Linked DNA regions of Homo sapiens: region 1 is linked to region 2. The links come from fine-mapping of genetic effects on gene expression. A gene starts in region 2. The other region holds a variant in brackets. All regions are shown on one strand. Distances are between the middles of the regions. Region 1 overlaps GTF3C1 (general transcription factor IIIC subunit 1). Region 2 holds the start of IL21R-AS1 (IL21R antisense RNA 1).

The links. PIP is the estimated chance that this variant, and not a neighbour inherited with it, causes the effect. A credible set is the group of variants that fine-mapping cannot tell apart.
Region 1: its variant is the best candidate, but not a certain one, in a credible set for the expression of IL21R-AS1 in lung (GTEx, PIP 0.79).

Annotation. Positions count from the first base shown.
Region 1 is chr16:27,481,835-27,485,834 of GRCh38, reverse strand. It overlaps GTF3C1 (general transcription factor IIIC subunit 1), which reads left to right. Exons shown (of 37, transcript NM_001520.4): 25 at 1,482-1,624; 26 at 2,710-2,791. Among named protein-coding and RNA genes, the nearest start is that of IL21R-AS1, 30 kb to the right of the region's middle. The variant G/A (reference allele first, on the strand shown) is at 2,481.
Region 2 is chr16:27,451,165-27,455,684 of GRCh38, reverse strand. It overlaps IL21R-AS1 (IL21R antisense RNA 1), which reads left to right and starts at 2,292. Exons shown (of 3, transcript NR_037158.1): 1 at 2,292-2,588; 2 at 2,763-2,942. IL21R (interleukin 21 receptor) reads right to left here. Exons shown (of 9, transcript NM_181078.3): 9 at 3,643-4,520. RefSeq lists an enhancer at 2,785-2,884.

The DNA of each region.
Region 1 (4,000 bases), 30 kb before region 2:
AGATGGAGCCTTGCTCTTTCACCCAGTCTGGAGTGCAGTGGCACGATCACAGCTCACTGCATCCTCAACCTGGCCTCAAGTGATCCCACCTCAGCCTCTCATAGTCCTGGGACTACAGGCGCACCCTGCCATGACCAGCTAATCCTACAAATTAATACCATTCTGTTTTTCTACATTTCTTTTTAGCTTTCAGCTGCATACATATAAATGTTTGCCTAGCTGCAGGCAAACTAGTTCAGAGCTGTTCTTTCTCTCTCCTCACCAGTAGTCTAACCCTGGCCTGCTCCTTCCTCCCACCTTCATTGCCTGAAAAGCTCCAATTTACCTTCCTGTAACTGCCCATCATGTCCGGAATGATCTGCCAATTGGGCGTAATTACCCTGCTCATTCTCTGTTCTTGGCCGGATACTTCTCATGCTGTTTCTGTCACCTCTGGTACCTCTTGGCTCACCGGCGTGGCTGGTCCACAAGGCAGCGAGACCTCTTATTTGCCTTCCAGGAAAAAGCTCTGCCAGTCCAGTCCAGGGCCCCTTCCAGGCAGTAGTGCCACAAGGCAGCTTTGGAGGAGCCCGGGTGTGCCTCCGGGTCTCAGCCAGGCCAGGCAGGAGAAACCCAGCTGGGGCTTTGTGCCCAGATGCTCCTTGCCTGCCAACTATTAGATCCCTTGTCTTGACCGCTTGTCCCCTGTTCTCTCATCCCTCAGTCCTCTCCTGAATTCCATCCCAACCTCTTTTCCAAGGAAGAACCTGAAAGGTGACATGTTGCCATCCCTAATTTCTGTTCCCTGCATCTGCAATGGCTTCGTCATTGCAGAGCTGATGGGTAAGTGGGGCGTCCCTCCATCTGCTCCAGCTCTGGTGCAGCTGGAGGAGGCAGGAGGGTCCTGCATAGGTCAGTGTTGATGGACTCTCGCCGCTTACCAGAACTTACAGACTTTTTGGGTCACCTCATCCTTGGGGATGTAAGAAAATAACTCGTCAAGCGGCTTTCTCATGTCGGCCTTGCCTTCCTGTGTTATTGACCAAGATGTTCTCCTGGGTCTGCTAATTTTGTACATTCTGCTTCTACTAACATAACATACAAGCACAACATACAGAACGTTTCTGAGCACACATGATGCATAATTAGGACACTAAGACCTCTAACTAAACACACTTTGCATCCCCATGATTCCCTCTAATACAGCGCCCTTTCAGGCAGTTCCCCCCCGCCCCGTTGGGCACCTTTGTCACACATGGCGCTTGCTAAAATACACTCTTTCCCGCTGGTCACTGAGGCCTCGTCCTATACTTGTCTGCCCAGAATCTCCCTCAGTGTCTGGCACATGGTGGGCCCAGTAAATATTGTGAGGTGACAGTTGTGGGGATTCTCTGAGGAAGGAGGCTGCACAAAACACATTTTGTCCACTTTTTTATGGTAATTCCCCATGATGTCGTCTCTGAGGATACTGACTTTTTGTCTTGGCTCTGTGTTTGATCCAGGTGAAGGGCCCATTTGTCACCTGGCAGGTGGTACGGGACATTTTGCATGCCACGTTTGAAGAGTCTTTGGATAAAACATCTCATTCCGTTGGACGAAGAGCTCGCTACATAGTCAAAAACCCACAGGCCTATCTCAACTATAAGTAAGCCTCATTGAAGCCCCGTCACTCCGGGACACGGTTACGTTATCCCGTTTGCTTAAGAGTCTGGTGGGAAGTGTGGCTGGAGCACACTGAGGTGTCTGATGGGCTGGCCAAGTGTTGGAGTCTGCTGGGGAGATGGACCTTGGTTTTTTGAGGGTGAGGGCCAAGCATGATTCTGGGTGCTTTCCCATGCAAGGTATTGCTTAGACCTTATAGCGGCCATGAGAAGTAGGTGGTGGTATCCTTTTTTTGGATGAAGAAGCGGAGACTAGATAGGCTGACTCGCTAAGTACCACGTGCCTAGCTGGTGGTGGAGGCAGAGGCAGAGGCTGGCTTTTCCTGCTGTTTTTGGCCCTCAGAGCAGTTCCTGAGAGCTCTGATTGGTGGCTCCCTCCAGCAGCAAGCTAGGCAGGACCTGGGATCATTGGACAGGATGCCCTCTGCCATGTTCTTAGCAGAGCTGAGAACTGTCTTCCTGCCCTGCCCTTGTGTGTGTGACCTCAGGGAGTCCCCTTGCCTTACCAGGCTGTAAAGCGGAATGAGTCTGTACCTGGCAAGCTCTTTATGAAGGCAGCAGTGCCTGGTGGACGGGAGCCCAGCAAATGCTGGTCGCCTTCCCCTTCATTTTCTTTTGGGCAAGTCAGGCTCTCCTTATATCATGGAGATGTGAAGGTTAGTGGAGTGGACACACCTGCTTTGCAGTAGATTAGAGAGCTTAAGAATAATAAACCCCAAAGCCTGTTTGATGTTTTTAAATGTGTGATGCACTTTCACATAGGTCAGCCCATATGGTCCTGGACAAACCCCTGTGAGAGACAGTTTGGGACTCAGTGTTCTCGGTTACCTATGAAGGACG[G/A]AAGTTCAGAGAAGCCAAGGTGTAAAGTGTGAACAGACCTGACTGAGGTCAGGCTTGGCTGACCCCAAATCCTTCATTCGTAAAAGCTGCAGTTGTGCAACAGGCATATAAGTAACTCATGCTTCAAGGTCGGCCAAGGCCAGAAACATGAGAATGGAGCTCTCTGAAGGTTCTGAACATGGGCATCATTGCAATTCCCAGACTTCAGCTTTGTCTCCTCTTCCTGCAGAGTGTGCCTGGCCGAGGTGTACCAGGATAAAGCACTTGTTGGAGATTTCATGAATCGAAGAGGTGACTATGATGACCCAAAGGTAGGTCCTGTGTGAGTGTAGGGCTTGGTATGCTTGGGAGATTGGGGCAGCTAGACTTCAGTCAGCTCCTCTCATCCCACAGTGCCCCTGCCAGCCTTAGGAACGTGGACTTTGTTTCCTGCTCACTTGAGAAATCACCGAGTCAGCTCTCTGGTGTTGGCCTTCACTTGATCTGGCTTCAAACACCTGTTTTTAAAGATGATTAGAATCTGACAGGCCACTTTGAAGGGCTGCTGTGCCTTGGGCCTGTTTTGTTAAGAAAATAGAACATTTCTTCAGAAATTACAGGCTTCCTAGAAAGCTCGCAGACTGGGTGTGGGTTTTCTTTCCGAGTTTTCTGTCCAGAGGGGCCAAGGCGGTGGCTGACAAGGAGGGAAGCTGTCTGCTGACCCAGACTCCTGCCCTTCGCCTCAGAGGCTGCTCATCTTTCATTTCTGTGCTAACCCTGGACACTACAGTGTGTGTGGCAGGACTTGTGCCAAGTGAGGCCAGTGGACAAGGAGAGGCTACCTTTTCCGCCAAGGAGGCCACAGGCGAGTGGGACAGACAGAGAAGTACATGGCCATTGCAGGACAGTGTAGTCAGCTCCCGGAAGAGGAAGGCACAGGCCCACAGAGGTCAGGGAGGAGGCTCAGCAATGCTTTTGGATGGAAGTGACAGAAAAACCTAACCTAATGAGAGTATACAGCTTCCTTTTTCCCAAATGCCAAGCAGTTGAGGGTAGGCAGTCCTGGTCTGGTGCAGGGGAGCAGAGATGTCATCAGGCTCCCAGGTTCCTGCCGCCACACTCCCCTCCAGGAGCAGTGGTCAGCTTTCCATCCTATGCCAGTCACCCCCTGGTTGCAAATGTTGACAATGAGAGCTCAAGTCCTCACAACAGAATTCCAGAGCAGGAAGCAGTGGGGAGAGGGGCTGCAATAGACCCACATGGCCCTTGTATCAGGGGACAGCCTTTCCCAGGAGCCCCTGGCAGACCTGGGCCACGTGGCTGGGAAACAGTGGGACATAGCACAGGGGACTCAGGCTGCCATGAGTGGCTTAAACTGTCCTGGTGTATCCTAGGAGACTGGGCATCCTCCCTCCCCACAGCAAATTGAGACTGGCTAATCAGAAAGTGTGGGGAAAAATGGAATAGGTGACCCACAGACACCCACAGTGTCTGCCAGTGGGCTTAGTAAAGGTGTCAGCACTGGGCGAGACTGGAAACCA
Region 2 (4,520 bases):
TTTCACCTCCAGCGGGGGGACCAAAAGGAGCTCAGGAATGGGGCAGAGCATGATGGACTCCAGGCAAATCACTGCCTTTTTCTGGGCCTTCACTTCCCTCTGTCTCCTTCCCTTGTTAGAGCATCTGGGACCCCCAGACAGCATCCCAGGCTGAGATCTCGCAGGAACTGTTGATGGTTGGAGAGCTGGGGTTATGTGTTCGTTGAATCCCAGCAGAAAGCAGTGCAAGCTTCAAGGCATCTGGAGGGAAGCATTTATGAACTCTCTGGGAAGGAGATTGGGAAGGGCTGGGGCCACAGCCCTCTTCTCCTCTGACCTGGAGCCTAGCTCAAGGTGATGATAGAAAGACAACGCACCTCTGGCCGGGCGTGGTGGCTCACGCCTGCAATCCCAGCACTTTGGGAGGCTGAGGCGGGCAGATCACTTCAGGTCAGGAGTACGAGACCAGCCTTGCCAACATGGTGAAACCCCGTCTCTACTAAAAATACAAAAATTAGCCAAGTGTGGTGGCACGTGCCTATAATCCCAGCTACTCAGGAGGCTGAAGCAGGAGAATTGCTTGAACCTGGGAGGCGGAGGTTTCAATGAGCAGAGATCACGCTATTGTACTCCAGCCTGGGTGACAGTGTCAGACTCTGTCTAAAAACCAAACAACAAAAACAAAAAACAAACAAAAACACTAAGACAACTGACATCTAATAAGGGCTTGCTCCACCCTCTGTTTTCATTCCTGGAGCAAGCCAAGAGGCTGATTCCTAACCTCCACTTTATAAAAGAGAAAACTGAGGCGCAGCGACAGCAAATGACTTGCCCTTGGAGCCTGGTCTTCTGGGCCCTTTGAATGGGGTGATATGGTTTGGCTCTTTGTCCCCTCCAAATCCCATGTTGAACTGTGATTCTCAACGTTGGAGGTGAGACCTGCGGGGAGGTGATTCATGGGGGCAGACCCTCCTGAACAGCTTAGCACTATCCCCTTGGTGATGAGTGGGTTCTCGCTCAGTCACTTCATGGGAGATCTGGTGGGTTTGTTTGTTTGTTTTTGTTTTGTTTTGTTTTGTTTGAGACAGAGTATGGCTCTGTTGCCCAGGCTGGAGTACAGTGGTGTGATCTCGGCTCTCTGCAACCTCTGCCTCCTGGGTTCAAGCAGTTGTCCTGTCTCAGCCTCCCAAGCAGCTGGGACTACAGGCACAAGCCACCAAGCCCAGCTGATTTTTGTATTTTTTTTTTTTAGCAGAGATGGGGTTTCACCATATTGCTCAGGCTGGTCTCGATCTCCTGACCTCAGGTGATCCACCCACCTCGGCCTCCCAAAGTGCTGGGATTACAGGCGTCAGCCACCGTGCCCAGCCAATCTGGTTGTTTAAAAGAGTCTGGGACCTCCCACTTTGCTCTCTTCCTCCTACTCTTGCCAGGTGACACGCAGGCTCCCCCTTAGCCTTCTGCTGTGATTGGAAGCTTCCTGAGGCCTCACCCAGAATAAATGCTGGTGCCATGCTTCCTGCACAACCTGCAGAACTGAGAGCCAATTAAGCCTCTTTGTAAATTACCTAGACCCTGGTATTTCTCTTTTTTATTTTTTGAGACAGGATCTTTCTGTCGCTCAGCGTGGAGTGCAGTGGCGCCATCTCAGCTCACTGCAACCTCTGCCTCCCGGATTCAAGTGATCCTCGTGTCTCAGCCTCCTGAGTAGCTGGGATTACAGGCATGTGCCACCATGCCAGACTCATTTTTGTATTTATAGTAGAGACAGGGTTTTGCCATGTTGGCCAGGCTGGTCTTGAACTCCTAGCCTCAAGGGATCCGCCTGCCTCGGCCTCCCAAAGTGCTGGGATTATAGGCGTGATCCCAGCCTAGCCTGGTATTTCTTTATAGTGACACAAGGACTAATACAAGGTCCTTCCTTAGGATAGAAGGAGAGTCCTTACTGTGGGGATAATATCAGAATAATGCTAGAACACTTTCTGCTGCAAGGGACAGAAACCCACCTCAAACCAGCTTAAGCAAAAAAGGAAATTTATCAGCTCATTGATTCAGCTAGGGTAGGCAGGGTTATGCTGTGGTAACAAACAGCCCCATCTCAGCAGCTTAGAACAACAAAGGATTGATTCCTTGCTCACGATACACGTCTATCACAAGTGAACTGAAACTTCAGTCCGTATCTCCTTGCTCAAGGACCCAGGTGCCCAGGCAGATGGAGCAGTCACCATCATCATCTGTCTCTGTGACAGAGGAAAAACACCCCAGGGGGTGTGGTAGCCATCTGAAAAATGCTCTGCCCAGAAGTGAGACTTATCACTTCTGCTCACAACTGCCCAGTCCCAGCCAGTCACATGGCCCCATCTGGCTACAGAGGGTCAGGATGTACAATCCTGCCATGTGCCCAGCATATGGTGAACAGCATAATGACTTCCATACTCATGTATCTAAACGGTCCAGGAGAAACGTGGTTTCAGGCATGGCTGGATCCGGGATCTCAAGAGCTATTACCATCTCTCAGCTCTGCTTTCTTGTGTGTTTCTTGCTGCCCCTCCCAGTACCCTCCTTACAGCTTAGTAATCCCAGCAGAAAGAGAGCATGGACCAGCTAGGGTATGTCTGTCCCTAAACTGTACTGTTGCCAGGGGGAAGAAATGTCCTACTGGGCAGGCCTGGTTCACATAGCCACTCCCAGAGCTGGGGTCAGCCACGTCTCCAAACTGCTGCACAGGCAGATGCAGCAGGCACCCACGGCGTCTGCTAAACCTTCCTCACCTCTTGATCTAGGTACGTTCCAGCAGAGCAAGGTGAAAAAGAGCTGAAAGTGGCATCAGAAGCCCAGAGTTCTGGTTCCAGCTCCGACCACTCATTCAGTGTGTGACCTCAGGCAGGTCACCAGCCTGAGCTGTGCCTTCATTTCATCTGTCAGACGGATGACTCTGCCCCTCAGAGCTTGCAGACGGCAAGGTGAGGAATGCGGCAGCTGGGAAAGTGACGTTGCTATCGGTCCCCCTTCCTCTTCAGTGAGTCTTGTCAGCAATTCTGGCCTGGTCTTTGGAGGGCGAGGAGCGCCTGTCCCACTTGCTCCTGACCCTTGGTCGTACCTCCAGGCCTTTGTCCAAGCTCTTCCCTCTGCCCCAAATAGCTGGTACATGTAACAACGCCTATTCATTTTTCCTTTTTTTTTTTTTTTATGAGACGTAGTCTCGCTCTGTCACCCAGGCTGGAGTGCAGTGGTGTGATCTCTGCTCGCTGCAACCTCCATCTCTCAGATTCTCCTGCCTCAGCCTCCTGAGTAGCTGGGGTTACAGGCACCCGCCACCGCACCCAGCTAATTTTTGTATTTTTAGTAGAGACTGGGTTTCACCACGTTGCCCAGGCTGGTCTCAAACTCCTGACCTCTAATGATCTGCCCGCCTCGGCCTCCCAAAGTGCTAGGATTACAGTCATGAGCCACCACTCCCAGCCTCCTATTCATTTTTCGAAGTCCAACCAACACCACCTCCTCCCTGAAGCCCCCTACTCCTCTTGATGTTCTCTCTGGGCTACCATCGGTGAGCTGGGACTCACTCATACCAGCCAGGAGGGCAGATTGTGCATATCTCTTCCCAACTCTGTGTTTAGACTCAAATCAGGAGCATGAAATTACACCATGGAAATAAGCAAATGCTACAAATCAGGCTTTATTGAGTGCCTACTATGTGCCAGGCTGGGACTAAAGGCAGTGAACAAAATAGAGTTGCTGGCCTGGTATAACTTGTGTTTTATCTTTATCTTTGTTTCCAGTATGCATTTATCTCTGTCTATCCAACCAATCATTCTTCCTTCAAGCTTTTTATTAAAGCCATTAAGAGTAATATCAAAGACTTTTGCACCAACTTAATACCATCTTCCTATCCACCCACACATCCATCCATCCTCCATCCACCCTCCTACCTACTAATCCCTCCTTTCAGGTGAGCCAGCTCTTGTCTCCAACTTTTATTTTTAAGAGACAGGGTCTTGATCTGTGACCCAGGCTGGAGTGCAACGGTGTAATCACAGCTCACTGCAGCCTCAAATTCCTGGGCTCCAGCGATCCTCCCACCTTAGCCTCCCGAGTAGCTGGGACTATAGGCAAGCACCACCACACCTGGCTAATTTTTTTAAAAAATAATAATTTTTGTAGAGATGGGGCCTTGCTATGTTGCCCAGGCTGGTCTCGAACTCCTGGCCTCAAGTGATCCACCTTCCTTGGCCTCCCAAAGTGCTGAGATCACAGGTGTGAGCCACTACGCCCGGCCCTCCAACTTTGCTCCTCTGTGTTTATAAGCTGAGTTCCCTTCAAAGGTGGGATTCTGAGGAGCCTCATCTGCCCCAGTCCAGAGTCCCCCAATCTGGCCTCAGGCCTTCCCCAACCATCTGTGTTCCCCTCCGCCACCCAGCAAGCTCTGGGTGCAGGAGAGCTGTGCTGCTTTCCTGGGAGCCTGTGGCTCAGGTGGCACCCACAGGTGGCTCCTGGAACCTGTTGCCCCCAAGAAGGTGTGAAAACCACAGCACATCTGG